Linked DNA regions of Homo sapiens: regions 1, 2 and 4 are each linked to region 3. The links come from fine-mapping of genetic effects on gene expression. A gene starts in region 3. Each other region holds a variant in brackets. All regions are shown on one strand. Distances are between the middles of the regions.

What was found. PIP is the estimated chance that this variant, and not a neighbour inherited with it, causes the effect.
Region 1: its variant is the best candidate, but not a certain one, in a credible set for the expression of SCAF8 in visceral fat (GTEx, PIP 0.77).
Region 2: its variant is the best candidate, but not a certain one, in a credible set for the expression of SCAF8 in whole blood (TOPMed, PIP 0.52).
Region 4: its variant is the best candidate, but not a certain one, in a credible set for the expression of SCAF8 in whole blood (TOPMed, PIP 0.51).

Annotation. Positions count from the first base shown.
Region 1 is chr6:154,176,348-154,184,714 of GRCh38, reverse strand. The region is part of intron 10 of IPCEF1 (interaction protein for cytohesin exchange factors 1); the gene reads left to right. It also overlaps a transcript of OPRM1 not described here. Among named protein-coding and RNA genes, the nearest start is that of OPRM1, 140 kb to the right of the region's middle. The variant G/A (reference allele first, on the strand shown) is at 4,724.
Region 2 is chr6:154,776,478-154,784,844 of GRCh38, reverse strand. It overlaps SCAF8 (SR-related CTD associated factor 8), which reads right to left. Exons shown (of 20, transcript NM_014892.5): 3 at 6,800-6,844. Among named protein-coding and RNA genes, the nearest start is that of SCAF8, 47 kb to the right of the region's middle. RefSeq lists a silencer at 5,843-6,043. The variant ATG/G (reference allele first, on the strand shown) is at 4,438.
Region 3 is chr6:154,729,570-154,737,936 of GRCh38, reverse strand. It overlaps SCAF8 (SR-related CTD associated factor 8), which reads right to left and starts at 4,521. Exons shown (of 20, transcript NM_014892.5): 1 at 4,007-4,521. The coding sequence starts at 4,036. RefSeq lists silencers at 3,749-4,348, 4,499-4,618, 4,649-4,888 and an enhancer at 3,985-4,488.
Region 4 is chr6:154,833,870-154,842,236 of GRCh38, reverse strand. SCAF8 (SR-related CTD associated factor 8) reads right to left here. Exons shown (of 20, transcript NM_014892.5): 20 at 8,016-8,367. Among named protein-coding and RNA genes, the nearest start is that of MIR1273C, 15 kb to the left of the region's middle. The variant T/C (reference allele first, on the strand shown) is at 4,670.

The DNA.
Region 1 (8,367 bases), 550 kb after region 3:
CATCACTAAAATTACCATTCATTCATTCGAAAAAAATATATTGTACTTTTATTAATTGGTAATATCTGTTATAGGCACTATGCCTACAATTTTTGTGTTCTGGATCTTGCATTCTGGTTATTAACAATTTGGAGTGTATTTTTTCTATGTACCAATGCGCATATATATATATACATACACATACATAGATGTACACACATATACCATTGGTCTTTTAAAAAAAATGTAAATAGAATTAGGTGACAGATATCCATCTGTAGCCTGTTTTTCCACATAAGCCTTCCTTGTTAGTACATGCAGCTCTACCTTGTTATTTTTGATAACTGCATCATTTTCTGTGGTGTGAATATTATACTACTACTAGTATAGTAGTATTATTTATTCTCCAAAAGATGGAAATGTAGGTGATTTCCAATTTTTTATTATTACAGAGTGTTACAGTAAACATTCTAATATGTATCACTTTATATGCCAGTGCTATTACATTTTGAGATAGCTGATACAGCTATTTTTTTTTAAGAGAAAGTTTTCAGTGTAACTCAACATTTGAAGTGTACTTGCCCTTGGACCAAGCAATTCTTCAAATGTTGAGATACACTGAAAACTTTCTCTTAAATAAAGCAACAACAACAGCTGTACCAGCTTTCAGCTATAAAATGAATAAGCTCAGGGGATCGAATATGCAGCATAGTGACTAGAGTTAGCAGTACTACATTGTGTACTTGAAATTTGCTTAAATGTTCTGACCACAAAACAATTTTTTTCTTTTCCTGTTTGTGTTTTTTGTTTTGCTTTGTTTTTTGTTTTTTTTGTTTGTTTGTTTTTGATACAGGGTCTTATTTTGTTACCCAGGCTGGAGTGCAGTGGCATGACCTCGGTTCACTGTAACCTCTGCCTCCTGGGTTCAAGTGATTCTCCCACCTCAGCCTCCCACGTAGCTAGAGGCATGCACTACACCTGGCTAATTTTTGTATTTTTGGTACAGATGGGGTTTCACCCTGTTGGCCAGGCTGGTCTCAAACTCCTGACCTCAAGTGATCTGCCTGCCTCGGCCTCAAAAAGTCCTGGGATTACAGGTGTAAGCCACCACCCAGCCCAATCTTTCTTTTTATCACTTTGTCAGTATGGTAGTTAGAACATACCTTTATAGCATCCTTTGGTATTCTATAGAGCGCACCTCTCCTTGGCACTATCATTCAGGTAATCTTGTGAATTTAATTTTCAGGTTTTATTTAGAATATAATTTTTGGATTTTGGTCAAAATGTTCTCAAATGTTTAGATTAATTTGGCAAGAAGTACTATCTTTAAAGCATTAAGTCATCCATGAATATGGTATATCTACCTATTTAGGTCATGTTATGCAAGTACATAGATTGCAGTAGATAATAGTCATAGCGATAAGTGAATGAGAGCGCCATCTTGAAAAGATAAAGGTGGCTGGGTGTGGTGGCTCACGCCTGTAATCCCAGCACTTTGGGAGGCCAAGATGGGCAGATCACGAGGTCAGGAGATCGAGACCATCCTTGCTAACACAGTGAAACCCCGTCTCTACTAAAAATACAAAAAATTAGCCGGGTGTGGTGGCACACACCTGTAATCCCAGCTACTGGGGAAGCTGAGGCAGGAGAATCACTTGAACCTGGGAGGCAGAGGTTGCAGTGAGCTGAGATCACACCACTGCACTCCAGCCTGGGCTACAGAGCGAGAGTCCGTCTCAAAAAAAAAGAAAAAAAAAAGATAAGGGCATTTATTTGTTCAGCCTTCATATTCTGCTTAGTGAAATTGAGATAAGCTAACTTCTTCCTTTCTCTTGCCTCCCTGTTCTTGACCTGAAGTGTTCCCTAGTCTCATCCCTTTCCTTTTTCTAAAATTTTCATTTTTACCTTTTGTATTCACTTGTCCCCATCATGGATCCACATGGTTGATGGATCCAGCGGGTTATGGTGCCACAGCTAACATATTTATCTACAATGCATTGGATTCGTATCCTAGAATTTAGGTCATTTTCCAGCTTCCCACCCACTGCTACCATTTTGTTCTCATTCAACTGATACCTCATAAACGTATTTTAAGAAGAAAAAAAGGCGATCAAATATCTTTTTTGTATGTACACCAACGTTTTCTGTTTTCTTAGCATATGAGGAAACATAGTAATTTTATGTCTACTTTAAATATCTTGCCTAATCCTGGGTGCTCCTATATTTGGAAGAATAAAATTTAAAAACAAATGAAATATTTGTTTTAAGAATATAAAGCTACTTAATCAGATAGTTGAGCAATGGAGTCAACTTAAGATTATTTCAGAAAACGATTGCCTCAAGACTCAATAATAACAACAGCAAAACAACCATTAAAGATCACCCAATAGACTAGGATTGTTCTTATCAATAAAAGCAATAATACAGTAGAAGAGCCTTGAGCTGTCTTAACAGAAACATCAAACACATGAAAGAAGATACGTACATGACTCTGGCAGAGAAGGTAAAACAAATAGAGGAAAATGAGGGAAATCAAAATGAAGCTACTCTTGTCTTAGATTCATGAGAGCACAAGTAAAAACATTAGCTTTATACTTGGGTGTTCTCTCTCTCTTTCTCTTAATATGTTCAGTTTCTCATGGAATTTCTTTTACCTGTGATCTTTTTTAAAAATTTTAATTTAATTTAATTTTAAGTTCTGGGATACATGCGCAGATGTGCAGGTTTGTTACAAACCTGCCATCTTTTAAAATCGCCTCACCTTTCCCAACTAGAGTGTTCTCCCAACTTGACGTTCTCATCTTCTAAGCACTCATACCTCTGTTTAATACATGGCTGCAGTCTTGTACACATGTATTTATGATTATTACCTTCTGCTTTTGATTCAACTGGTTCATGATCCCCAAGTGTCCAGTTCAAGTCCCCAAGAAGGTAATCTGATTTTGTGGTTTGTGTCCTAGATTGCTGGCTGGCTTATCAATTTTCTGCTCTCAGGTCTCGTGCCCTGCGGCCCTGTGGAGACAGAATTTGAGGTACAAAACCTGGGAACCTCAGCAGCAGAGGCTCCGGGTGGGGATTGCTCCCTTTGAAGATGCAGTAGTTCAAGCAGGGATCTGAGCCTTGGTCTGTCCAGTTCAGTCAACTGCTATCTCAGTGACTATATATTGCCTAATTTGAAATATATAGTCTTCACTGACTTTCATTCAAAAGAACGCATCAAATATATATATTCATAGCATAGTATAGCTATGTAAATTTAAAGCATAGTATTTAAGAAAACGAGCTTTGGAGTCACAACCTAGGTTTGTCTCTTTGTGAATTTGGTGAAAGAATTTTAATTTAACACTTCTCATAGAAGTGTTAAAAGATAATGAAATAACGTTGGTCTAAGAATTAACACAGTGCATGTCACATAGTAAAAACTCAATGTATGATCGTTATCTCTACCCAACAGGAACAAAAATAGGAGATTTCTCTCTCAAATTATACTATGCCAATGTTGTTGGTCAGTAGTGTCCTCACTACTAAAATGAGTTATCCAGATTTTTTTCTTAATTAAATAATTTAAATATATCATTATGATTTCAAATCTTTTGCTATGTTGTAGAGTTGTCAAATTTACTAATTGGAGAAAGCCTATACAATTCTTCTGATCTTTTGGCATCAGGTGCTATATTAAATAACATGTGTAAAGCCTTTTAAGGTTTTGCATACCTTTAGGGTATGCAAAATACCCAAATGACTATATAGTTTTTTCTTCTCTTGGTGACAAGTGCCTTCCACGGTCTTTTCTTTCTCAGGCACTTAGAACATTGCATATGAACAGGAAACGCTGTTTTCTACCTAAATTTTTCCAAGTGTTGCATGTTGGGGAACTAAAATTATCTTCCCTGGGACATCATTTAGACATTCCTAATCTGAAACAAATTTCCTTTCAAATTCTGATAAGAAATATGGCATATGAATTCCCCTCCTGTCTTCTGAATCCAGCATTTAGGTTCTAAGTAGAAAATAAACAGCCACATTCTAGAAAGCACAAGGAAAGACCAAAAATAAGATAGTGGGGGAGGCAGAGTTGAAAATATAGCATTTAAAGAGATAATCTGCATACAGTGTTCTCGACAGCCAAATTCTGGGCCTACTGGGGCATGCCTGTGCTGTCAGAGCAGACAATAGACTGGGGTATGGAAGAGGAGGAGAAGGGAGCAGCACATTCATTTGGCAGGGTCTTGGAAAGGAGTGAACTTATAACTGTTGGCTAAAAATGTTGTTTTGTCTCATTTGCTAATGTCACCAAGAAGGATCATGTTTAAAAAAAAAATATATATATATATATATATATATATATAGTTGTTGTTGTTAAACTAGCTCAGTATATATATATATATGTCTCCTTTCTTGAGTCTAACTAGTTAGGTAGCTGACCTAAGTTTGAAGAAAGTTTAGGAGTCTGACCCCTTGAGACATCCTAAGCTAGTCTAACAAAAGTGAAGGGTCACTGACATTAACCCAAATTCGCACCAACTCAACATTATGAGGCACTGACACTTTTAAGCAGGGATTTTGGACATACTCCTTTGAGCAAAGCCAAATTTTCTTTCATTCTCTTGTTTTGGTTTTTCAGTTAAGAGATAATACAGAGTGCTGCTTTATGGACAAATCTCAGTGTGCTAGTTGTAACTCTAGTTGCTTTCTCTTCCAATGACTTGAGGCTAGCATTGCATGAAAAATTGCTAACAGGCTG[G/A]CCTTGCTACTCAAAGTATGGTTCATGGACCAGCAATTCCAGCATCACTTAGGAGCTTGTTAAAAATTTACAATCTCGGCACAATCCCAGATGAACTCAAATGGAATCTACATGTTAACAAGGTTCCTAGGTGAGTGCCTGTTAAAAGTTTGAGAGGAGTGGTCTAGAAGGGCATGATTCTGCACGGTGTGAAAGTGAACTTTTATTCTTAACTCCATCACTAATTTGCATTTTGAAAAGATCACTTACTGTTTTTCCGGAATCTTTATTTTTCTCATCCATAAAATAAAAATAGTTTTCATCTTCCTTGACAAAACACTTGTGAGGTGAGATAAGACAGACTTTAAAGTGCCTTCTGTGGCAGAATCAAAGTCCTGCTGTTTTATGTAGGAAGACTAAAATATGCTCCAGAAAGGAAGGATAAAAATTGCATTGGAAACACTTGACTGTCAGACAAAATTCATTTATTTTGCTTCAGAAGATAAGGGGGGGCGGAAATAATTAATTTGGCTCCCGTCTCCAATGGGAGAGAGACAAGCGGTCTTCTCTGCCAATCTTTTTTCCTCGCTCTTTATGATCTTGTAAGATAAGAGAAATAATGTAGTGTTTTCTACTATGAAATTCTAATTTAGAAAAATATATAAAAAGCAAAAGGGAAATTTTTAAAATACTGCTTTACTGAAAAGCCTCTTGGAGGTACAAGGGTAGCCAGAAAGGTTTGACAAGCCTGCTGTAGTCTTAGTATAGCAATTGAGAAGGATTCTCACATTTGCTTTGGGGTCAGGTACAAGCTGTGTTTTCTTTTGCACTTGTACCTTTTGGGTCTGTTTTTGTCCTGTGATCCTACTTATCACCTGCTTCCACTGGATGTTCATTTTATGGCCCTGTGAAGACCTAAGCATCAGCCATTAGCAACAATAAAAACAATGTAATGTCCCTGACTGGGTCGTGGACCTGGGGCACAGTGCATCCCCTGAGTATTTAGTGATATGTTGTAGACCTCTTAGATTATGACACACAAAACAGCCAATAAGGGTATTTTCTTGATTCCTAACACCAGAATTTATTATTTTACTGTTTTATGCTTGTGGATGATTCTGGAATCAGGTTATTAGAGGTCAGACACACAGTCTTTCAGTTCCAGGCTTTCTCTGAGGAGAGAGGGATGGCTGAGAGGCAGGAAGCTGAGTGATAATTTGCCTTTCATTATTTCCTCATTTTCTGAACAGCTTTAATCCTATGTGAACATACATACTTCTTGCCATTATCTCATTTTTGGATTAATTTAAATTGAAGATATTGGTTTTTTTGAGCATAATATATGAAATTTTAGGTGAATTCTGTTTTCATGTCTGGTTACCCCAACAGGTTCACTTTATCTGTTTGTTAATTTTAAAGTTTAGTTATTTATTGGAAGATCAAGTTGTATTTACATATACACAGTTGCCCAACCCAAAGTTTAAGTTAGAAAAAGAAATGGAAGAGGGGGAGGAAGATACCCTTCGATATTTTTAACATAAAGGTCATATATCTTCATGTAAATACATTAAATAATAAAGCTATCAAAAAGAAAGTTCCATTTATTTTTCATGTAGGGAATATATTATATGCCATGTTATCCTAAGATTCTAAAGTTATTTTTATCTTTACTGATTTAATATCTATTGAATCAGATATGTAATTTTAATATAATTTTTTTTATTATTATACTTTAAGTTCTAGGATACTTGTGCACAACGTGCAGGTTTGTTACATAGGTATACATGTGCCATGGTGGTTTGCTACAGCCATCAACTCATCATTTACATTAGGTATTTCTCCTAACGCTATCCCTCCCCCAGCCCCCCACCCACCAACAGGCCCCAGTCTGTGATGTTCCCCTCCCTGTGTCCATGTGTCCTCATTGTTCAACTCCCACTTATGAGTGAGAACCTGTAGTGTTTGATTTTCTGTCCTTGTGATATTTTGCTGAGAATGATGGTTTCCAGCTTCATCCATGTCCCTATAAAGGACATGAACTCATCCTTTTTTATGGCTGCGTAGTATCCCATGGTGTATATGTGACACATTGTCTTTATCTAGTCTATTATTGATGGACATTTGGGTTGGTTACAAGTCTTTGCTATTGTGAATAGTGCCACAATAAACATATGTGTGCATGTGTCTTTATAGTAGCATGATTTATAATCCTTTGGATATATACCCAGTAATGGGATTGCTGGCTCAAATGGTATTTCTAGTTCTAGATCCTTGAGGAATCACCACACTGTCTTCCACAATGGTTGAACTAATTTACACTCCCACCAACAGTGTAAAAGTGTTCCTATTTCTCCACATCCTCTCCAGCATCTGTTATTTCCTGACTTTTTAATGATCACCATTCTAACTGGCGTGAGATGGTATCTCATTGTGGTTTTGATTTGCATTTCTCTGATGACCAGTGATGATCAGCATTTTTTCATATGTCTGTTGGCTGCATAAATGTCTTCCTTTGAGAAGTGTCTGTTCATGTCCTTTGCCCACTTTCTGATGGGGTTGTTTGTTTTTTTCTTATAAATTTGTTTATGTTCTGTGTAGATTCTGGATATTAGCCCTTTGTCAGATGGATAGATTGCAAAGATTTTCTCCCATTCTGTAGGTTGCCTGTTCACTTTGATGATAGTTTCTTTTGCTGTGCAGAAGCTTCTTAGTTTAATTAGATCCCGTTTGTCAATTTTGGCTTTTGTTGCCATTGCTTTTGGTGTTTTAGTCATGAAGTCTTTGCCCATGCCTATGTCCTGAACGGTATTGCCTAGGTTTTCTTCTAGGGTTTTTATGGTTTTAGGTCTTACGTTTAAGTCTTTAATCCATCTTGAGTTAATTTTTGTATAAGGTGTAAGGAAGGGATCCAGTTTCAGCTTTGTGCATATGGCTAGCCAGTTTTCCCAGCAACATTTATTAAATAGGGAATCCTTTCCCCATTGCTTGTTTTTGTCAGGTTTGTCAGATCAGATGGTTGTAGATGTGTGGTGTTATTTCTGAGGCTTCTGTTCTGTTCCATTGGTCTATATCTCTGTTTTAGTACCAGTGTCATGCTGTTTTGGTTACTGTGGCCTTGTGGTATAGTTTGAAGTCAGGTAGCATGATGCCTCCAGCTTTGTTCTTTTTGCTCAGGATTGTCTTGGTTTCATATGAAATTTAAAGTAGTTTTTTCCAATTCTGTGAAGAGTCAGTGGGAGCTTGATGGGGATAGCATTGAATTACCTTGGGCACTATGGCCATTTTCATGATATTGATTCTTCCTATCCATGAGCATGGAATGTTCTTCTATTTGTTTGTGACCTCTTTTATTTCATTGAGCAGTGGTTTGTAGTTCTCCTTGAGGAGGTCCTTCATATCCCTTGTAAATTGGATTCCTAGGTATTTTATTCTCTTTATAGTAATTATGAATGGGAGTTCACTCATGATTTGGCTCTCTGTCTGTTATTGGTGTATTGGAATGCTTGTGATTTTTGCACATTGATTTTGTATCCTGAGACTTTGCTGAAGTTGCTTATCAGCTTAAGGAGATTTTGGGCTGAGATGATGGGGTTTTCTAAATATACAATCATGTGATCCACAAACAAAGACAATTTGACCTCCTCTTTTCCTAATTGAATACACTT
Region 2 (8,367 bases), 47 kb before region 3:
TACAGATGTACATAGAAATTTCAGAATAAAAAGAAATACAGTTGTCCTTCAGTAGCCTTGGGGGATTCGTTCCAAGACCCCTGAAGATACCAAAATCCGAGGATGCTCACGTCCCTTATATAAAATGGGCAGTATTTGCATATAACCTACGGACATCATCCCATCTACTTTAAATCAGCTCTAGATTACTGTGAATACCTAATACAATGCCTACACATCACTTCATTCACATTCTACTCAGTGTATAGGAAATTCAAGTTTTGCTTTCTGGAATTTCGTGGAATATTTTTTCCCCAAATTTTGATCCCAATAGGCTGAACCCATGGGTTGGAACCCACAGAAACGGAAGAGTGACTGTAATTATATAAACATCCCTGGTTTCTTAAATAAAGCAAGAGGCAAAAGTTTCTCTAATCATAATGATTAAGAATGACTGATAAGCTTAAGATATATTTGAAATGTAAATTTAAAAAGTGTGGAACTTGTGTTGATCTAAAATATCCTAGGGAAGAGGAACTTTAATAAAAATACATATGAAAAGTGAGAATCTGGAAATATACTCCTTTCAAACTATTTGTGCCCATGTACAAAAATCTCTTTGTATCCTACCTCCAAGCATAAAGGTATACTCATGATAAAAGTCCAGTTACAGAATACTGCACCCTACATGAAAAATAAATAAATAAATATATATATATATATATATATATATATATATATATATCTCAAGACACCAGAGATAAGTAAATATAACAGCCATCTTTCTTTTTATTTTTTTGAGACGGAGTCTCGCTCTGTCACCCAGGCTGGAGTGCAGTGGCATGATCTCGGCTCACTGCAACCTCTGCTTTGTGGGTTCAAGCAATTCTCCTGCCTCAGCCTCCTGAGTAGCTGGGACTACAGGCATGTGCTACCGCGCCTGCCTAATTTTTGTATTAGTAGAGACGGGATTTCACCATTTTGGCCAGGCTGGTCTCAAACTCCTGACCTCTCAAGTGATCTGCCCACCTCGGCCTCCCAAAGTGCTGGGATTATAGGCGTGAGCCACTGCACCTAGCTAACAGCCATCTTTCAATGTGGACTCAATCCTTCCTCTGGAAAAATATCAAAGAGAAGAATAAATGTTTCGCTTCTTTGAAAAATATATACATATCCACTGCAAAATATCAACCACCATTAACAACCATGTACATACAGCTACCAGATCAACTTTCTAGAAAACAAAAAACTTTCATGATGATAATCTCTAGACAGTTTAGCACCATCTTTTCATTTATTATTTACAAAGTAAATGTAACTTGAAAATCACCACAAATAAGCCACATTTCCTGCTCTTACTAAATATGTAGCAGGAAATTTGAAGAAGGTAATCATAGCCAAAAGCTTACAGATTAAGGCAATAGTAACTCATCTACAGACCACTTTCAGAGCCAGAAAGATGAAATTTATTCCTGACCTCACCGTATCTAAGAGTAGCCACAGTACCATAGAATGTATTTCACTGTAACAAAGCATCTAGATTTTATCAAAATAAATAGTTCTGAATGATAATATTCGATCTTATTCTGAATCTAGTAGACACATTTGCTTGTAGTACTCATGCAAAAAAAGGCAAGGGATTTCATACAGACAAAAAGAGTTGGGTAAACTCTACATATTTTTGGAACAGAGCTGAGGATTTCATTTTTGCATTTCAAACCAGCAAATGAGAACAGAGCTATGGATGGTAGAAAAGTCACCAAATCATGAGGTCTCTGGCTCAAAATAAAATTTATTGCCTTTAGGATTCAGGATAACTAAGGTAAGTTAGTTATTTATAATGCAAATATAGGGATCTATGATGGTTAATACTGAGTGTCAACTTGACTGGATTGAAGGACATAAAGTATTGATCTTGGATGTGTCTGTGAGGGTGCTGCCAAAGGAGATTAACATTTGAGTCAGTGAGCAGGGGAAGGTAGACCCACCTTTAATCTGGGTGGGCACCATCTAATCAGCTGCCAGCAAGTATAGAGCAGGTAGAAAAATATGAAAACGAGAGATTGGCCTAGCCTCAGAGCCTACATCTTCCTCTTGTGCTGGACGCTTCCTGCCCTCGAACACTGGACTCCAAGTTCTTCAGTTTTGAGACTCAGACTGGCCGTCCTTGCACCTCAAGCTTGCAGACAGCCTGCTGTGGGACCTTGTGATCGTGTAAGTTAATACTTATGTTAATATTTAATAAACTCCCCTGTATATATGTATACCCTATATATGTGTGTATATATACACATATCCTATTAGTTCTGTCCCTCTAGAGAACCCTGACACAGGATCATAACAAGTTCTAAAACCTGTCTTCTGAAGTTTCCTTATCTGTTTCTAACTCCCGCCTCTGCTGCTGCTGCCGCCCCCATTTTTTCTGTTTGTTTGTTTTGTTTTGTTTTGAGACAAGCTCTTGCTTTGTTGCCCAAGCTAGAGTGCAGTGGCACAATGATGGTTCACTACAGCCTCAACTTCCTCCTGAACTCAAGCCTCAAGCAATCCCTCCACCTCACCCACATAAGCAGCTGGGAACACGGGCACTTGCCACTTTGCCCAGTTAATTTTTGTAGTTTTTAGGCTGGGACAGGGTTTTGCCACGTTTGCCCAGGCTGGTCTCAAATGCCTGAGCCCAGCCTTGGCCCCTCCCAAACTGCTAGACTGTAGGCATGAGCCAGAGTGCCCAGGTGCTTCTGTCTTATAAAGCTAAGACACAATCAGCATATGAACTGATTTTTGGCAAAATTAATTAGGACAAGGCCAGAGACCAGAGTATTCTTTAGAGTAGTTTTCTTGGCCTAAAGGAAATCATATTTACTGTTAATTTTTCATTTACTGTCATTTATTACTCCATAAATCTTTCATGACTAAAACATGGGTTCACGGATAATATATGACCAAACTGCAGCCACACTTCTCCCTCACACAATTTATGGTATATGAAGAGAATATAAAATGGTACCGCCATCTTGGAAAACAGTTTGGTAGCTTCTTATAAAATGGAAACATGTACTCACTATCCCAAAGAAATGTAAACTTACATTCACACAAAAACACTCTGGGTATACAAGTGTTCCTAGCAGCTTTATTCATAATAACCAAAAACTACAAACAACCCAGATGAACCCCAATGAGTGAATGATTAAACTGTGGTAAATTCATACCCTGAAATACTACTCAGAAATAAAAAGTAAGGAAACCATATGTCTCTTCTGGTTACTGTAGCCTTGTAGTATAGTTTGAAGGCAGGTAGTGCAATGCCTCCAGCTTTGTTCTTTTTGCTTAAGACTGTCTTCGCTATACAGGCCCTTTTCCTATTCCATGTGAAATTTAAAGTAGTTTTTTCTAATTCTGTGAAAAATGTCAGTGGTAGTTTATGGGAATACCATTTATTCTATAAATTACTTTGGGCAGTATGGCCATGTTCACGATATTGATTCTTCCTATCCATGAGGATAGAATGTTTTTCCATTTGTTTGTGTCCTCTCTGATTTCCTTGAGCAGTGGTTTGTAGATCTCCTTGAAGAGGTCCTTCACACTCCTTGTTAGCTATATTCCTAGGTATTTTATTCTCTTTGTAGCAACTGTGAATGGGAGTTCATTCATAACGTGGCTCTCTGCTTGGTGTATATTGTTGGTGTATAGGAATGCTTGTGATTTTTGCACATTGATTTTGTATCCTGAGACTTCGCTGAGGTTGCTTATCAGTTTAAGGAGTTTTTGGGGCAAAACAACGAGATAAACTCTCACACCAGTCAGAATGGTGATTACTTAAAAGTCAAGAAACAACCGATGCTGGTGAGGCTGTGGAGAAACAGGAACACTTTTATACTCTTGGTGGGAATGTAAATTAGTTAAACCATTGTGGAAGACAGTGTGGCAATTCCTCAAGGATCTAGAACCAGAAACACCATCTGACCCAGCAATCCCATTACTGGGTATATACCCAAAGGAATATAAATCATTCTACCATAAAGACGCATGCACACGTATGTTTACTGCAGCACTATTCACGATAGCAAAGACATGGAATCAACCCAAATGCCCATCAATGATAGACTGGATAAAGAAAATGTGGTACATATACACCATGGAATACTATGCAGACATAAAAAGGAATGAGATCATGTACTTTGCAGTGACATGGATGAAGCTGGAAGCCATCATCCTCAGCAAACTAACATAGGAACAGAAAACCAAAGATCCCATGTTCTCACTCGTAAGTGGGAGTTGAACAATGACAACACATGGACACAGGGAGGGGAACAAAACACATCAGGGCCAGTCGGGGGTGGGGGACGAGGGGAGGGAGAGCATTAGGACAAATAGCTAATGTATGTGGGGCTTAAAACCTAGATGACAAGTTGATAGGTACAGCAAACCACCATGGCACAGGTATACCTATGTAACAAACCT[ATG/G]TGTTTTGCACTTGTATACCAGAACTTAAATTTAAAAAAAAAAAAAAAAAAGGAAGGAACTATTTGATACATGCAACAACTTGGTTAGATCTCAAAAGAATTACGCTGGGCAAAATAAGTCAATCTCAAAAGGCTACATTTTGTATGATTCAATTTATATAACATTTTGAAATGTAAAATAGAGAAAGAGAACAGGTTAATGACTGCCAGGCATTAGGGATTAGGGATGGGGAGGAGGAGGTGAGTCGAGTATGACTATAGAGTATATAAAAGGGAAACACAAGGCATCCTAGTGGTGAAGGAACTGTTCTGTACCTTGACTATGGTGATGTTTATATGAATCTATATATGTGATTAAACGGCATGGAACTAAATGCATACATATACAAATGAGTGCATGTAAGACAATTAAAATCTGAATAAGGTTAGTGTGTCAACAGGTGACTGTATCAATGTCCTGATTGTAATATTTTACTACAATTCTACAGAACGTTACCACAGGGGGAAACTGAGTGAGGGGCACATGGGATCTCTACATGATTTATTCCTACTGATTTAATGACATGTGAATCTACAATTAGCTCAAAAGTATAAAAAAAAAGTGTATATATATATATATATATACACACACACACACACACACACACCTTATTTTAACCATTACACAAATCTGTTGCTGGATCTCTGATTTAAACAGGGTAATAGCAAAGCATTTAAGTTTTTCCCCATACACTGATTGGCTTCTTCAGATTGACTGTAATTATCTCACGATAGAGTAACTTTGCTCATTCCAGGTCTTCCTAAGATTCTGACACATTTTATTCAAAGTACCCTACCACAAATCAAATCAGTCAACAAGCATTTATCCATAAATTCACTTTTACCTTTTAAACCTTTACTACTCAAATTGTGGTTTGTAAAGAAACATCATCTAGGAGCTGTTACAAATGCAGAATCTCAGGTTCCTCTCCACACTCGGTGAATTAGAATCCACATTTTTAACAAGAATTCTAGGTAAATTCCTATTCATCAAGTTTATGAGGCATAGTGTAAGACATTAAAACTTTATGGCTGGGCGCAGTGGCTCACGCCTATAATCCCAGCACTTTTGAGAGGCCAAGACACATGGATCATTTGAGGTCAGGAGTTCAAGACCAGCCTGGCCAACATGGTGAAACCCCCATCTCTACTAAAAATACAAAAAAATTAGCTGGGCGTGGTGGCGCATGTCTGTAATCCCAGCTACAGGGGAGGCTGAGGCAAGAGAATAGCTTGAACTCGGGAGACAGAGGTTGCAGTGAGCCGAAATCTTGATACTGCACTCCAGCTTGGGCGACAGAGTGAGACTCCGTCTCAAAAACAAAAACAAAAAAACCAAAACAAAACAAAACAAAACCAGACATTAAAACTTTTAAAGAAAGATCTTTAATCAGAACAATCTCTGAGAAATGCTTTTAAAAGCGTTAGACCAAATAAAATTTTCTAATCACTAACATTTTTAAACTTTAAGTGAAACAGACAGCATACTTGTTATTCAACCCTTTATCTTAGCTTCAAGTTACCTAAACCACTTAATCCCCAAGTATGTTTTATCTACACACACACACACACACACACACACACACACACACACACATTTTTTGAGACAGGGTCTCACTCTGTTCCCCAGGCTGGAGTGCAGTGGTGTGATCTCAGCTCACTACAACCTCCGCCCCCTGGGTTCAAGCAATTCTTGTGCCTCAGCCTCCCAAGTAGCTGGGATTACAGGCATGCACTACCAGGTCAGCTAATTTTTGTACTTTTAGTAAACACACAGTTTTGTCATCTTGGTCAGGCTAGTCTTGAACTCCTGGCCTCAAGTGATCCACCCACCTTGGCCTCCCAAAGTGCTGGGATTACAGGTGTGGGCCATTGTGCACAGCCTATCAATACTATATTTTAAATACTGAGAAAACAAGAATTTTAAAAAAGAAAAAAGAACTCAATGACATAAAGGCTAACTAACTTATTCAAAGTTACCTAGCCAGTTGAATGACTGAAATCTCACTTCAAATCCCGCACCCTTCTCCCAAGTGGAACATAAACACACTGCAACCTTGCTGAATCCTTAATACCACATGACACCGATTCTCAAACTGGCTCTGCTTACATTTAGGCACATGAACATAGGCAGAATACAAACCTAAGTAAAATTATCTGAAAGGCACTTTTATTTTATTTCTTAATTGGAAAATAAAATAACTGGAATCACTTTTTAACAGTCCATCAAAACAATTTAAACTTGGGTATTTGATCTAAAGGAGAAGAGTACAGGCATTAATCTACAATTACAGCACATGTATGGAAAATTATATACTTACTTTCTGAATAAACTTCTCAACACTCTGTACCACATGTTTATAGAACTAAAAGAGGAAAAAAATGAAGTATGGTTTTAAAATCAGTTTGAGGAGATTGAAATTTCCTGCTAACCATAGGTTTTACATGCTCCAAAGGTCTATCAAAACAATTATCTTAACCAAGAATTTTGAGACAAACATTCTTGTCACTCACCTTTATATGCAACTAGCTGTGCTATATAATTAGTAAAGGGCTTCTCTAAAGTAGATGTGTGATCAGCATGTCCAAAGTGCATTACCTTACCACAGATATAAAATAATGCTATTGAAGACTTTCTGAAAGCATACTTTAACAAACAGTTGTGTTGACTTCAAAATACTTCTAATAAGTACTGGTGGGTGTATATTCTTATATTCATGAAAGGAAAAGTACAGATTTCATACAGTATGATTTTATCAGTTAAATCAAGGGAAATTTGAAAAATCAAGTAACTACAAATAACATTAATAAATGTATGTAAGGTAGTTTTCTACTTCATTTATCTCCTTCTGCTTCTCCTGGAAAATGAACTGCAAGAATACAAAATAAAACATAGAAATGTATAATATCCTAATGGATCAGACAAAATGAATCAGCGGAAGTGAACATGTAGATTAAAAATTAGTAATTGGCCACTATCAATTTTAAGAAAACTTAGAAGATTTAAGTTTCATAAAATATAGCACTATGAATAAACTTGAAATAAATTATAAATTTAGCGTATAGTATATACATGTGTGCCTAATAAATTTTAATGCCACAATAACAATACCATATTGGCGTATGATTTCTGTTTAAAGAACCTGAATTGTGCTTCTCTTTATACTTTTTTTTTTTTTCCCCTTGGAGACACACTCTCACTCTGTCACCCAGGCTGGTGTGCAGCGGCACAATCTCAGTTCACTGCAACCCTCGCCTCCCGGGTTCAAGCGATTCTCCTGCCTCAGCCTCCCAAGTAGCTGGGACTACAGATGCGTGCCAGCCACCACGCCTAATTTTTGTATTTTTAGTAGAGACGGGGTTTCGCCATGTTGGCCAGGCTGGTCTCTAACTCTTGACCTCAAGTGATCCACCCACCTCGGCCTCCCAAAGTGCTGGAAGTATAGGCGTGAGCCACTGCGCCCAGCCTTCTTTATACTTTTCTTCTCGTGAATTATGCTTTTTAAGGACATTCCCTTAGACTGAAGAAATAGGAACATTCAACTAAACCTCAGCACTAAATCCAGTATTTATAATAACAAAAAGAAAAGAAAACATCATGAACTCATATTCACCAAATCAAAACCTACAAGTTTAAGTCTGGCTAAAGTTACTTACAATAAAGTAAGTTTACTCAATGGTTTAAGTTACTTAAGTAAAAAAGCCAAAACAACTAAAGTTATTAGGCACTTTAGAGGCCCCTAAACATTTAAAAATCAATATGCAAAATATTAAATAACTACACATTGAAGGAACAATTCTGGAAGACACCTTGACAGTGTTCTTTGTTTTGTTACTATACATAATTAAAATAAAACTACTTCATAAATCTTAACTGAAAGTTTATTAA
Region 3 (8,367 bases):
GAGCCTTAGCAAGCCATAAAAGGTTAAGTATTTTGTATTTTAAACATTTAATTTGGGGCAGGCACCACGGCTTAGGCCTGTAATCCCAGCACTTTGGGAGGGGAGGTGGGCAGATCACCGGAGCTCAGGAGTTCATGACCAGCCAGGGCAACATGGCAAAACCCCATCTCTACAAAACAAAAACAATTAGCCCGGCGTGGTGACCTGTCAACAGCGAGTACCTGTCTCAATTTTTCTGATTCAGGGTCGCACTGTTGCCCGGGCCAGAGTGTAGTGGTGCAGCTCACTGCAGCCTCCACCTTCCTGGGTCATGAGATCCTCCCACCTCAGCACCTGCCCCCTCCTTTACACCCCCTTCACCCATGTTGGGACTACAGGCACATGCCACCGTGACCAGCTAATTTGTGTTGTTGTTGTTGTTTTGTAGAGATGGGGGTTTCGCCATGCTGGCCAGGCTAGCATGGAACTCCTGAGCTCAAGTCATCTGCCCACCTCGGCCTCCCAAAGGGATGGGATTACAGGCATGACCCATCGAGCCCAGCCTATTTTAAATATTTTAAGGTGAAGTATCAAAATATCTTGTTGACAAACGTTCCTGATTATTCTTAGAGCTAAATTTTGATTCCTTACAAAGCAAATGGAATTGACAATTCAATGTTTCAAAGATACCTTTAAATTTAGCAGAGAAGTTGTGATGGATTAAACCCAAAGATAAACACCTTTAAAAGCCAAACTATGAGCGTCGAAAACATCCTTTTCTCCTAATCCTGCAACTAGAATTCCTTTTTAATTTTTGTAATTTGTAACACATAATTTAATGGAAAACAATCATTACTGAACTACTTCTCAGCATATACTTATTTGCAATAACAATGTTTACTACACATCAGCAAATATTACAACATTCACAGAAACTGCATTCAAAATAAAAAACAGTATTATGTATTGTTTTGTGTTTAAAAAAAAAAGTATTTTTCTGAATCTTCTTCAAATATATTTCCCTTCCTCAACTCCCTGACTCTGTACTGCTATTTTTAAGCTAACTCCACTTTGAAACACGGTGAAGTTAGAGCATATAAATAAATAAGGAAGTTACAAGACTTAAGTTCTTTGAAATCCATATGGGGAAATGGGAGAGTGCTACATACACTAAAATGGGACTAAGACAAACCTCAAGTTCCTGTAAAATGAGAAAACAGGTGAAACACCTATCTACACATGTAAATGTTAGGCCCCCTTATCCTTAATTAATATTAAAACGAAAAACTGGAATTAACATTTCTTCCCTACTGTGACCAACCATAGTGCACTAACCACTTGTTTACATCTAATATTTGGGAGCTACTGTTTAAAACGTCATGGATGGGCCAGGCGCAGTGGCTCACGCCTGTAATCCCAGCACTTTGGGAGGCCGAGCCGGGTGGATCACCTGAGGTCAGGAGTTCGAGACCAGCCTGGCCAACGTGATGAAACCCCATCTCTACTAAAAATACAAAAAACTAGCTGGGCATGGCGGTGGGTGCCTGTAATCCCAGCTACTCCGGAGGCTGAAGCAGGAGAATTGCTTGAACCCAGGAGGTGGAGGTTGCATTGAGCCAAGATCTCGCCATTGCACTCCAGCCTGGGCAACAAGAGCAAAACTCCGTCTCCAAAAAAAAAAAAAAAAAAAAAGTCTTGGATGGCCCTTTGAGGGGGAGGACCACATTATTAGGAACCCCCCCAAAGACAGACACCCAACAAAGTGTGTGTGGGGAAGAGGGTGGCGGCGGGAATTAAATCCAATGAGGGCAAAAAACAAAACAAAACGAAATCCCCCAGGCGTGGTGGCTCACATCTGTCATCCCAGCACTTGGGATGCCAAGGTGAAAGGACCGCTTGGGCCCAGGAGTTCAAGAACAGCCTGGGCAACATAACAAGACCTCCTCTCTATAAAAAATAAAAATGACGGGCATGGTGACACTGGCCTGTAATCTCACCTACTTGGGGGGCTGAGGTGAGAGGAGGACCCCTTGGGCCCGGGAGGCAAAGGATGCAGTGAGCCAAGATCACACCACTGCACTCCAGCCTGGGTGACAGAATGACACTCCTCAAAAAAAGAAAGATAGCTATGAAAAAAAATGAAACACCAGGCGCAGTGGCACACGCCCATAATCTCAGCACTTTGGGAGGCCAAGGCGGGTGGATCACTTGAGGTCAGGAGTTTGAGAACAGCCTGGCCAACATGGTGAAACCCCATCTCTACTAAAAATACAAAAATTAGCGGGGCGTGGTGATGTGCGCCTGTAATCCCAGCTACTCGGGACACTGAGGCAGAAGAATCGCTTGAAACCGGGAGGTGGAGGCTACAGTGAGCTGAGATGGTGACACTCCAGCCTGGGTAACAAGAGCGAAACTCTGTCTCAAAAAAAAAAAAAAAAGAAGATTCCCAAGTCTATTGCTCTAATTTATCAATGTTAAAAATAAAAAATGTAGTATTAAAAAAGAAAATGCTTTCCAAAAAAAGTTATGTATCACTGCTATTGAAAATAGCCCAAATATTATCTACCGTTTAGCCTCTTAGCTAAGATTCCCAAATACTGTTTTTCTTTTTAAAGAAATTAAAACAAGATAAAACTATGCAACGGCATTTAAAAGTACTGTCCTATTTGGGCCGTCACAGCAAAAAGCCTCGTATTTTAAGAGGTAAATATTAAAGATACTCTTTAACAATCATAGTATCGAATAAAGTATTGGCACTTTAAGAGTTCATAAAATTTATGCTAATTTAGTTACCAGCATAATTACACTTTTTCTTTTTCTTTTTTTTTTTTTTGTAGACAGAGTCTCACTCTGTCACTGGGCTGGATTGCAGTGGCGCAGATCTCGGCTCACTGCAACCTCCGCTTCCCAGGTTCAAGCGATTCTCCTGCCTCAGCCTCCTAAGTAGCTGGGATTACAGGTGCCTGCCACTACGCCCAGCTAATTTTTTGTATTTTTAGTAGAGACAGGGTTTCACCACGTTGGCCAGGCTGGTCTTGAACTCCTGACCTCGTGATTGGCCCGCCTCGGCCTCCCAAAGTGCTGGGATTACAGGCCTGAGCCACTGTTCCCGGCCATAATTACACTTTCCAAGGCGTACGGGTAGGGATACTAATGCTGACTGTGCAGATGTGTACTTGCTATGTTTGATGTTTACATTAAGGCCTATTGAAGTCGGAGTTTAAAAAGAAATTGAATACATCAAAACCTGTCTTCTTCCAGACTAGTAAATTCAACTACACAGTGAAAATGGAATCTGCTTTTTAAAATCTTGTTTGACACGTGAATGAACCAGCGAGAAATGTTTCCCCCATAATCTTCCATCTCTCGATGCACAGATCTCTCCCTACCATTTGTCTTTATGTCGTGATGGATTAGAAGAGGAGCGAGTAAAAATAAAAGATATTGCAGAATAACCTTTGCCTGCCTACCAACCATCCAATTAGCTCAAGTCCCTAGCTGGCAAATTACCTAGTCAACAATGCCTCAATTATAAACACTACGTGTAACGTGACCACAGATCAACACCCCGTAGGTTCATTTCCCCCACCGCCCCCAATCGGTGTTAGCCTCAGTGAGGACCCGGGAAGGTCTGGAGAGTCATGTCCAGCGTCCACTTAAATCCTCAAAGGCCCAGGAAGGAGGTGGGCGGGCCAGGCCTCGGCGGAACTGACCTCGAGGGACCTGTCGGGAGTCTCCGGGTGAGGGCCCAACCGGGTCTTTCCCTCCGAGCTCGCAGCCATTCCATAGGACGCCGGAGACGCCAGAACCTCCCTCCGCCCCAGGGCGGCCCTCCCCCAACCCTCCTCCCGGACCCGGGGGAGGGGCACCCAGAGGAGAAACACCCCTCCCCCACGGGCACTGCTAGGCCACCGCTCACCCCACCCTTAAAAAACCCGCAGGCCCGCGCCCACCCTCCGGGCCCCGGCCTCGACCAGGGGTGGGGGCGGTGCGGGCAGGAGCAGGGGAACCCGGCTGCCATACCAACCTCGCTATTGAAGGTCTTCACGGCCTCCATGTTGTCGCTGCGGAGGCCCCGAGCCCGGCGGCGGAAGAGGCGGCGGCCACTGCACTGGGTGGGGAGAGCGAGACGCGGGCTGCTGCGTGGCCGCGAGGAGGGGGCGCTGGCGGGAGAGCGGGCCGCTGCGACCTCGGGGCGGAGTGGAAGGGCACGCGCTGGCGGGGAAGGGCTCCCTCAGCGGCAGAGCGGCACCGGCATGGCCGCTAGGGCGGGGGGAGCGCCGTTCTAGGGAACAGAGGCGCTGCCGGGGCGGGTCGGCGGCGGGCGGGGGAGGGGCTGGGCCGCGGCGCCTTCTCTTCTCTGCCCCGCTCCGTTTCGGTCCCCCTCCCTCTAGCCCCTTCCCCTACACTCTCCACTCCCTTCTGCCCCTTCCTCCGACGGGCTCCTGTTTCACCTCCCCGCCGCTCGGGCCGCAGGAACCAGCCCCGCTCGGCGAAGACAGAGGAGGAAGCGCTGGCAGCAGCGGCTGCGGCATCCAATATGGCGGACTCGAGTCGGGCCGCGCAGTTCGGGGATCCGCGGCGCCGGCTAGCGCGCCCCCTGGCGACTGGACCGTGCGAGCCCCGGCGGCCGCGCGGAAACCATCGAGCGCGCTGGGGCCAGAGCGTCGCCGCCCGTAGGCCCGGCTGGGCTCCGCTGCCCTCGCCTTGGCTCCGGGGCCGCCCGCGCCTCGCCCCCTCCCCGCGCCCCGCGGACGCGGGAGTGAGCGCTGCGGCATCCGGGGGAACGCCGCGGCGGGTTTGTACAGCAGGAGGAGGCAACTCCAAAGCGCGGCTCTAATAAGAGCCTAAACGTGCCCAAGAAGCGGCAAGTTGAGGAAATGTGCGCGTTTCCCTTGTTTCCCGGTGGATTGGTCCTTTTGCACAAGCGGCAGGGTTTAGTTGCTTTTCACAACTTTACTGGACAGTGCCCTAAACATCCGCAGCCTTCGCCAAGAAAAAGTTCCTGGTCATCTATTTAGTAACTGAACTCAATTGTTTTAACTGCACAGGGAGGGAACATTAGAAACCAAAGCCTTGGATTCGGGTTGGGGCAGGCGGCGAGGGAAACAGGCATGCAGCAGCTCCTTGCAGGAAATGCCCGCTGCATAGGATCCAGGGACTGGAGTGGCACAATGAGCGCATTTGTCTGCAAGGCGGGAAGGGGACCCTAGAATGCACAACACTTGAATAGGTGAAAAGGGAACCCGTCTGTTTCGGAAGATGAATTGTTCTAAAGGAATTTTGCCCTAGGATACTTGGAGTAAAGGTAAATACAGTATTTCTTAGATGGATTAGGAGATGCTGCTAGTAAAAAGCCTTCTCTCTCGTGCAGCGCAAAATAAGGTACCAATTTAAAAATACTTATCGATGTTAAAAGATAGGGATGTATCGTGGAACCCCGAACACTGCTGTCCTCTTGTTGAAAGTCATTTTTCAACAATCATTCCCAAATTCACTCAAAGGGAGAGAGGAACATAAGGGCAGGATCGTACTTTTGGAGAGTTTTGGAATCAAGGTAGTTCCTAAGAGCTGTGCGCAGAGCCCCGTGAAACTGGGAAAGTAAGGCCCTTCTTGAGGTTTCAGAGCCTTCATTCTACTTCATTGGCAGCTTTAGTATAGGGCCTGGCTACTGAGAAGGTAACAGGGATAACTCACCAAGTGCTTTTATATTTACTTTCAAAATCTCAAATTCTGTCACAGATTTCTCCACCGTCTCCCATCTTCAGGCCTAGCCATGATCTTTTACTGACACTTGCAGTAGCCTCCTAACTGGTCCCTTGCTTGTCTTCCTACAGTTCATTTCCAGACAGTAGCCGAGGGATGTTTTTCTTAGATAAATCAGATCAGGTCACTCCCTTACTTAAATCCCTTAAATACTTTCTCATTGCCCATTTGATACCATCATAACTTCTCACCATGGCCTGAAGGCCCAGCCCAGCCTGCCGCAGCTCACACCACCTTCCCTTGCTCCCTGACTCTCCTCCTGCCACACTGGCCTTTCTGTTACTTGACAAGAAGCAGTGTTTTCATAGGTAGGACAATTGTGTCTCTTCACACAGGGTGCTGTTGCTCTTGTCCTTTCCATAGCTGACTCCTCCTCCTTCAATCTTCCTGAAAGAGGTCCCCTAATCACTCCATCTAAAGGAGCATTTACTGTGGCTTGAGAAAGTACTGCACTCAGTTCTGTGCATGCCAGGTTCTCACAATCAGAAGTCACTGCTTTGAGGCCGGGTGTGGTGGCTCTCGCCTGTAATCCGAGCACTTTGGGAGACCGAGGCGGGTGGATCACCTGAGGTTAGGAGTTCGAGACCAGCCTGGCCAACATGGTGAAATCCCGTCTGTACTAAAAATACAAAAAAAGTAGCCAGGCGTGGTGGCACGCCCTTGTAGTCCCAGCTACTCGGGAGGCCGAGGCAGGAGATTCGCTTGAACCCGGGAGGCGGAGGTTGCAGCGTGCCGAGATCGCGTGACTGCACTCCAGCCGGGGCAACAAGAGTGAAGCTCTGTCTCAAAAAGAGAAACAAAAAAGAAAAGAACGGAAAAAAAAGGCGCTGCTTTGGCCTGTGAGGGATTATTTATTAGGTCATACATGAAATGAGTGTTGATGGAATTACTTAGGCCTGAGAAATTAAAATGCAATACAAGCTAAAGGATAAAATCAGTGGTTAACATGCTTCACAATTTGATTTAATAAAGCTTCCGCATTCAGAATGGTAACAGAGGGCATAGTTTGATCAGGGTAAGCAGAGGGGGAAGATACAGAGAGCAGCCTAAACACAATCTTTTTTTTTGCGGGGTGTTGGGGCGGGGCTGGACGGAGTCTCGCTCTGTAGCCAGGCTGGAGTGCAGTGGCACGATCTCGGCTCACTGCAACCTCCACCTTCTGGGTTCAAGCGATTCTCGTGCCTCAGCCTCCTGAGTAGCGGGGATTACAGGCACGTGCCACCACACCCAGCTAATTTTTGTATTTTTAGTAGAGATGGGGTTTCACCATGTTGGCCAGGATGGTCTTGATCTCCTGACCTTGTGATCCGCTTGCCTTGGCCTCCCAAAGTGCTGGGATTATAGCCGCGCCCGGCTTTTATTTTTTATTTATTTATTTTTTGAGACTGAGTTTTGCTCTTGTCGCCCAGGCTGGAGTGCAATGACGCGATCTCGGCTCACCGCAACCTCCGCCTTCCGGGTTCAAGCGATTCTCCTGCCTTAACCTCCCAAGTAGCTAGGACTACAGGCAACCGACGCCACGTTCGGCTAATTTTTGTATTTTTAGTAGAGACGGGGTTTCACCATGTTGGCCAGGCTGATCTCAAACTCCTGACCTCCAGTGATTCACCCTCCTCGGCCTCCCAAAGTGCTGGGATTACAGGCATGAGCCACCTCGCCCAGCCTAAACACAATCTTAATATAAGAAGGCGATAAAGCAAGAGAAGGGTTAGAGGGGAGCCTGGGGTTCCAGTGCAATGACTATATACAAAATTTATACACAACTACATACAGAGTGTGAAAACAGTACCCGTGTGTGTGTGTCTGTGTGTGTGTGTGTATGTATGTACGCTAGGATTCTGATTGCCAGTATAACCAGCCAATTTGAGCTAGTTTAAGCATAAAATAATAATTCATTATTACAGTACAGGTTTTTCTCATGTAACCAAAAGTCAGAAATGTAGCTGAGTCCAAGGGAGGGACTTGAACCAAAATAGAAAACCTAAGAGGCAATGTAATCTCTGCTTATCTGCTTAATTTTTCTATTGCTTTACCCAATTCTCTGTTTTATCTAGTGGAATCTATTACTTTTGGTTTTATAGTTCTAGACAACTTGAGGACCTGAATGACGACCTCTTCCTTCCCAAATCCAAATTCCCAAGGAAAGAAATAAGGAATTTCATTGACCCAGCTTGGATTAGGTGACCATCACCAAGAAACTGACCACTAATTTGGTTCTCAAAAGACTGATAGGAAATAGTGGTCAGGAGTACTTCAGTCATTGGAAGAGATATTTCATAATCTAAAGTTTCTGGTGTTCTCCTGTAAATGTTATCATCAGATTGTCCCTGAGGACTAAATAGTTTCTGGGAGTAACTTATAGAAATGAATTCAGCCATGGCCAAGAGGTCAGAGTCAAAAATAGTCTAGAGCAGTAGTCACCATAGAACTTTCTGGGGTCATGGAAATGTTCTGAATCTGTGCGGCCCAATTCAGTAGCACTAGCCCTGTGTGGCTACTGTGCACTTGAAATACGGCTAGGGCAGCTGAGGAAGATAATTTCCAATTTTATTTTACTTTAATTGACTCATGTTTAAGTATGTGGCTAGTGGCTACCATATTGGAAAGCATAGGTCTAGCTAG
Region 4 (8,367 bases), 100 kb before region 3:
AAGTATTAGACGTCTAATAATATATAAAATACTGAACGAATTGGTTAATTTATTTGGTAAATAAAACAACCATTTCTAATATGACACTGAAATGGCAAAATGATAGTCACATCACACTAGGGAGAAAATTTTAATAAGCAGACAAAACAAAATGATAACATTGTCCATTCTTTCAAAGCACTGACATACAAAAGTGAAAAGATACAACAGTGCACATTTTCAGGGTACCTATGTTTACTGAAGTCTAAAAACTCCTCCACCTTTAAAAGTCAGCATTATTTCTTGATGGAAGAAAAATACACAGTAACTTTTTGATGTAATACTAATATTATTGGGTTTTCTTTGCAAATTCCTTTAGTTCAAGTATTACTAAAGAAACATAAACATATGGACATTACAAATTCAGCTAAAAAACTAGGTAGTGCTGACTATCCTGTTTAATGGTAATATATGTATTAGGTATTTAAATTTGATTATTATAACACAAAATAATTTTAACATGGAATTTCTATAAAGATGTATTTTGTCACTCTACAGTGCCTGCCTCTTCCACTGTGTTTTTTTTAAGATGTTCATCAATTTACCCAATTTTGTCATAGCTGTTACCAACTGAATTGTGTCCTCTCAACCCCAAAAATATACGTTAAAGTCTTAACTACCATGTCTGAAAATGTAACCTTATTTGGAAATAAGGTCATGGTAGATGTAACTAAGATGAGATCACACTGGAATAGGGTAGGCTCCTAAACAAATATAACCGATGTCCTCATAAGCAGAAGAAAACTTGAACACAGACGCAGAGGTAAGATGATGCAAAAACATATGAGGAAAGACAGCTGGGGGGTGATGGAGGCAGATATTGGAGTGATGCATCTACAAGCCAAGAACACCAAGGACTGCTGAGAACTGCCACAAGTTTGGAAGAGGTAAGGAAGGATTCTCCTCTAGAGCCTTCAGAGAGCATCGCCCTGCTGACACCTTGATTTTGGACTTCTGGCCTCTGGAATTGTGAGAGAATAAATGTTACGTTACCCATTTTTTTCTATGTTGTTGCAGGAGGCCCAGGAAACTAATTACACAGACCATCTATTAACATCTACCATTCTAAAAAAGCATCTTTTAAGGTAAAGCATTGAAGTCAGCAAAACCTGGGTTCGAATACCTATGCAAATCAAAAGCTGTGTAACCAACCATAGGCATCTTTTGAATTCGCCTCTTCACTTGTAAAGAAAAGATAACAAAGCCTACCACATAGGGTATTTCTGAAAATATATTTTGTAGAATGCCTGCCACACTACAGGTTCAAGTCTCTCCACCCTCAAAACCCTTCTCTCCTTGTAGTGAGAGTGCATTAAACCTATGGTCAAAGACTATTTTGCTAGCAAAAATACATGAAAGCAGAGGGCTGTAATTAAAATACTCAATAAATTTTATTAAAAATACCCTTCTAAATGGAGTCCTTGATGGTTTTGCCAACTAAAAACCTATATCCTGACCCTTGGTATGACCGCAGCGATATAAATGCAACCCTAAAGCAATTTTTATCACCACAGAATACCACTTCTGAAGATTATTTAACACAAATCTTATTTTACTGAAACCCTTGCTAACGTATAAACTTAGTTCAGTAATAAACAGACTCATTATTAAAAAATGCTTGTTCACGTGCAACATTTATTTCATGTAATAATAAGCAAGATAATTACTTTTACGAAGATTAGTGGAAATATAACTCATAAACTTGATAAACACGTTCTCCAATGTGTGGATTAGGTAAGAATATGGCCACAATGGTCACAGTCATCTGTCCAAGGACTCTTGAAAAAAGTTATCAAAGGCCAGCATCATGACATGCTGTGGATTAAACCTTATATGAATATAAAGTTTAGTGACTTGAATAGAAGACTTAAAAAAAAAAACAACAAAATCAGGTTATATATTCTAATAAGGTAAAAGTACTGTAAATTATCCACTGCCGCTAAGGACAAAGATTAGTTTCTAAACTCTTCATATGAATGGAAGTGGTGAGTAAACACTAGCACTAAATGCTTACTACGTGTAAAAATAACTTTACACATTGTTTAATTCAAGCCATGGAATATTCCTAAAATAGGAGTTTTATGCACAAGAAAATGGTACTAAGTTTTAGTTATACATGCAGTGTATAAATGTTAAATTTTGGAAAGAAGCTGCCAAAACCAAATCCTAAAATATAAATTTGTAAGCAATCACTGGCTCTGCTTTACAAAGCATTTTAAAAGATATAAGGAATTTTAAATTTTATTTAATTTGCAGGAAAAAGCGTATTCAAAAAGAAATCTTAACATAAATGTCTGCCTCCAAAATAGCCAGTTATTAAGAAATTTAAAAATATTATGCCATGGTATAACCTTAAGGAAAAAAAAAACCAATCATGCAAATACGGGCCAGGTGCCTATAGGGGCTCACACCTATAATCCCAGCATGTTGGGAGGTGGAGGCGGAGGCAGAGGCAGAAGGGATCACTTGAGCCCAGGAAGAGTTCAAGGCTGCAGTGAGCTATGATCGCACCACTGCACTCCAGCCTGGATGACAGAGCGAGATCCCATCTCAAGAAAGAAAACAAAAAAGAAAAAGAAAAAGAAGAAAGGGAGATCTAAGAAAATCAAACTTAATTATTTAGCCATAGGAAAAGGAGATAGCCCGATATATGTTTGTAACAATGGAAACAATTTAGTGGTTAACTGTGGCTATAAACATATGGCTGGTTGGGTTATGTTTTTCTGCATATACATTGCCTAATATCTGGTGAGCCTCTATCATGTCAGGCACTTTATCTGATGGTACACACTAATTTTTGAATCTGGTACACAGTGTTTAAATCTTCACTACAGTGAGTCTGCAAAGTAACTTAAATCTGTGTCTTGGGTTTCTCTTCAGAAAAATAGTGAAGTAATAAGTACCTTATAGGACTGTCGTAAGGATTATATTGTGCAGGTAATACAATTATTCCAGTTCCTGTCACAGAGCATGTGTCCATTTAGTATTAGCTAATATTATCTTTAATAATGAAAATTTACCCCTTCAGATTAGCTAATAACAAACGATGTTTAGAGGCTCAGTAACTTGTCCAAAGCCACACATCTAGCTATTGTTAAAGGCAGTTTTAAAAACCCAAGGGCAATAAAATTTGTGCTATTTTTAAAAGTGTTCCAATAATGTTAAGTCTTTCCATTCCTCTTAGTTTTCTTCCTCAACTGGTCATTTACAGAAAAGAAAGCTTATTTCATAGACTTGAGGTAATTAAATGCTAGAAGTGATGTCAGAAATAATCACTTAGTGAAGGGGCAGCAAATGACTTTCAATGCAAACAACAAATCCAATTGATGGTCCCTGCCTGGAATGATGGGGTCAAAAAGGAGCCTGGAGTGCTCTATGAGAAGGATTTGGAGGCTAATTCTGAGAAAGGCAGAAAAATAAAACAAAACAATGATAGCTGCCCACAGGGGTGGGGATGGAAGTCGGGGGAGAGGGTAGGGAACAAAGAACACAGGACAACCAGGTGCTATATTTCCACCATTGCGATTCAAATACAATATACTTGAACTATCTATTGAGCTCCACGCAAAAACACCCTCAATTAACTGAGGCATCTAATGTCTCCCATACAATATGAAATTAGCCCATTAGCACAATTCTATCCCTTGATATACAATATATATTTTACAAATTACTTAGAATATTTGTTCTGTATCTTGAATAAACTTTAGAACAAGAAGCCCGAGTCATTCTAAGTATACATATGGGAGCAAAAGAGCCTGATGAAAAAGGAGGAACTTAAGTGGAGGGGATGAAAAATGCCTAAGCAAAGCTCATGCACAAATAATTCACTGATTTGCATTAGTTTTGACATGCACATCTAAGGAGTCTTACTAATAACATTGCTTCTAGACCCTGAACACCTACAATATTGGTCCAAAGAGATTCTTTCTATAATCAAAACACTTAATTACATGTATCAAGTAAATTTTCCTTGAGGTAATAATCCATGAACAAGTTTCACTTGCATAAAAAAAAAAAATACTTCCCTACAAAACCATCTCATATGCTTCCTGCCATCCCTTTCTTCCTATAACTCATCTTTAGATTAACGCTTAAATTTAAGCTGTGATAACTGACTTCTCTACTTTTGAATCATCCTCCAACACCAACTGCCACAGTTAACTGCATGCTTTGTTGAAACACTAAACATAATCTCATGTAACTAAAATATTTGGATTTTTAAAAATCTTAAGAATCTCAAGAGTATGGTATAATAAAGATGTACATATTTTAATATATCTGAAATGGTGGTATGTGGGGATTTAAAAAACCATATATACACAGGAAGGTGCATGTATGCATATATTTTATATATATATCACCCTCAGGAGATTCTGTATTAGTAACTCTGTGGTGACCACCCTCTACTCCCCATACCCCCACCAAAATATTTTCAGAGAGCTCCACAGGTGTTTCTGTTATACATTTCCTGCCTGGGAACCAGAGAGAGGGGACATCTCAAATTGCTTTCAATATTTATGTGCCCATATTTAAAGTATGCCTTTCCACCAAAAAAAAAAAAAAACAAACAATCTGGGCCCTTAATTTTAAGTTCTAGTTTTAGAAAGTTTTGCTGGATATCAAGATA[T/C]CTTGTTTTTAAATCTTCCATTAAAAATTATAATAATCAATATTTCTCTTCAGAAGTAATAAATTTTCAGTGTCTACAATTTGTTAGTTTAAAAGATATCATATATGAAACCACAGCATGAACAATATTAAGATTTATAATTCTCTGCCACACCATAGTATGACTACTTAAAATAATTTAGACCTTTATTTTGCCTAATGAATATAAAGATACTTGCCTTTCTATATATTATGTAAGTAAAATATTTTTAAAGAGAAATATGTTAGTTTTCTTTGTAAGTTAAAAGCCAAGTATTTTATTAATATAGCACCCAATAAAGTAATGATGATGAAGGCACATAAGGTATAACAAAGTTTTAATATGAGAATCTTCTTGTTCATTAAAGGTTGTGCCCATCATATATATATATAATATAATCTGTTAGATATATATTTGTTAGATATCTAATATATATACACAGAACAGAAAGCTTATTAGATATCATATATATATTAGACATAATAGTGAAGAAAAACAAAATATTCTCTAAATCACTTGAGGTGATATGTGTGTGTGTGTGTGTGCGTACGAAAGTTTAGACTGGGACGGGTGCTGTGGCTCACACCTGTAATCCCAGTACTTTGGGAGGCTGAGGCGGGCAGATCACGAGGTCTGGAGATCAAGACCATCCTGACCAACATGGTGAAACCCCATCTCTACTAAAAATACAAAAAAAATTAGGCGGGGCGTGGTGGCAGGTGCCTGTAGTCCCAGCTACTTGGGAGGCTGAGGCAGGAGAATGGCCTGAACCTGGGAGGCAGAGCTTGCAGTGAGCGGAGATCACGCCACTGCACTCCAGCCTAGGCAACAGAGCGAGACTCCATCTCAAATAAAAAAAAAAAAAAAAAACAATGTTTAGACTGGTAGAAAATTTATTCAAATTAACTGATTAACAGTAATGTTCATATATTCTCACTAAACTGAAAGTCCATTTCAATAATAAATATTGTATTTATTTGATACTAGGAAACTTCACGTTTATCTCTGAATTAGGAATGTATCTATAAACACTAGCATGTCATATTAGAAGTATTTTCTATTTCTGAATGGTGTTTCTTACAATCAATGGCACCTTATATCCCACGAAATACAGTGTTTATTTAAAAAGCACTTTTTCAAATTAAAAAGATGACTTCTCCTTTTTAAATTTACAAAACGTCCCCTAACCCCCAAACAACCCTAAATGTGTGGCTCCTTAAACTATAATCTTTTATATGAGTGAAAAATGGCAAATAAATTTAATGAAGAAACTAAACTCTCAGGACAAAAGGAACTGGTCTGGTAAGAATGCAATAGCTTAAATAATGAATGCATTTTTATCTATTAAATATTATATGGAGTTACTTCCAGAGTTTTAAGTAATTTCATACTTCTAGTATTTTCATCTTCCAATACTTTCAAATTATTTGTCTACCCTTTATTGAAATAAAATTAAAATAAAGGAACATATGATGCAGATTACTCTGCTGTAAACTAAGTTTCTATCAGTGCATGCATTTATGCTAAGAACACAAGCTAATGTTTAATGAAATGTTTAAATACAGATAAAAATTAGGTGTTCGCTAATACTGCAGAAAGGCATATCATTCTAACATGTCACAAATTAAAACACTACATGATTTGGTGTCTAGTTATCACTGCTTGCAACACTTCAAACCAATGTATTAAAGTGGTTAGGTTACTCCTTGCACATTTCTAATTGCTAGTATTCTAGTGACAGAACTGTGACCAAAAGCATAAAAAATGTGATAGGTCCTATGCCAAATTTATCAAAGTAAGATAATTAACTTTTCTCTCCATCATTTAAAAAATGGCAAATGCAATTATGACTTTTGAAAATTCTGAATGAGGATAATCTCTTTTCACTTAAATTCTATACAACAAAAAACAAGGACAAAGAACGAGCACATGATAATTTCTTTTAACTATTTTAAAAGAGTGTCATCACACATTTCCAAGATTGGTTTCTAGATACAGTACCGATAACTGGTTAGGTAACTTTCACTACTAGAATCTTCAAACCAGTGCAATGCTTGTACATTTTTTTTTTTCAAGTACACACGTGAAGGCCCAACAGTGATAAGAAGCTTGGCATCAAAAATCACTAGAAAGTCTCATGCTTTTTATCGCTATTTAATCCAAGTGACTGTCACTTAATTTTAATAATGCTAAACAAACTAGTTTGAGAGAAATCTCAGCCAATATAATTTCCTTAAGGGCAAGGCCAATATTTCCTGAACATTAAAACTTTGTACCCATGTAATAGTTTTTCCTCATTACCCTAAGGAAAAAAGAGTTGAAACCAATTCAAATTACTGATTGAACTGAATTACCTTGGAAGTAAATACCATTGAAATATTTTTACTCTTTACTTTTCTAAATAACAAAATAAATACTGTACTATCCCTGTTCAGAACTTATAAGAAGTCTTTCATTTTTGACGAGGAACCTTAAAGTTCTTATAGCTCTCTAGGTCATCAGAGGTAGGCAAGACCAATCCAATTTTAAATGTCTGGTGTGTTCTATCATTTTTTGGAGCTATCTTTGCTTAGAAATTTTAGATAAACAGAGCAAATGATAAATTGCTGGTAAGGCATTGGAAACAAAATGACTACTCATAGAACCAAATAAAAGCCTTCCATTAGAAACTAAAAAACACCAATGGTTTTATATCTGTGTATATAAGTAAAACCTAAAAGAGAACAAATAGCAAATAAAAATTAAAAGCAAAAGCAAAAACAAACAGGAAGCCAACCCCTACTTTTTTCCCTACTCAGTTTACCTTGCAGGCTACAGTGTTACCCAGAGCCCTACAAAACACATGATGGGTATTATGTTCCTGGTATACACATTAATGTCTTTAAGTCCACCAGCACCACTACACATTTTGTGCAATTAAGAAATTAACTTCAGGCACGTGACCAGTGAGTACTTTAGTGTCAGTACTATCTACGCAGAATAGCAAATATAGTGTGAAACAAAGCAATGCAAGCATTTATGTGAAATTTGGCTCCATGCTAACTCTGGCTTCATGCTTACCTATATTAAAAATAGAACTGCCAAACTACCAGTGTATCTCTTTATAATATCTCTTATTTTACCTTCATCAAGACCAAGAGCTTTAACTATAACCCATGTTAATTAGCCAGATTTCTCCAATATTCTACCAGATTTAAAAGAATATTTTATTATCTAAACTTTTTCAACTTTCTATTTTCTCTGTATGTGCATGAAGACGGACATACAGAGAAACAGAAAAAAACTACACGACTTCCACAATAAACATACACAGATATTATACACATACTGAGGAGGCTGCATGATTTTTATATCAAAGTACATGCTTTTTCCACCACATAGTTCATTGTTGTTATGATAGAAAGCTTTTGCAAAAAATAAGCACATGCTAATAATAATTCAAGGTTTTAAGAATTTATAGGTTAAAAAAATACAATTCCTAGAACACTGTTATCAAACAAATAAGTTTTATTGGCATCTAAAAACAAAATTCACCCAACATTGAAACGTACTTTAATATTTATGTTGTTGTTTTCTTGTTTCTTTTTTACTCACTGCAGTATGAGGAACAAATCACAAACACTTACTTTGGAGAAACAGAGACCGTAGTGTAGATTTTACAAAATCACTTTTTAAAATCT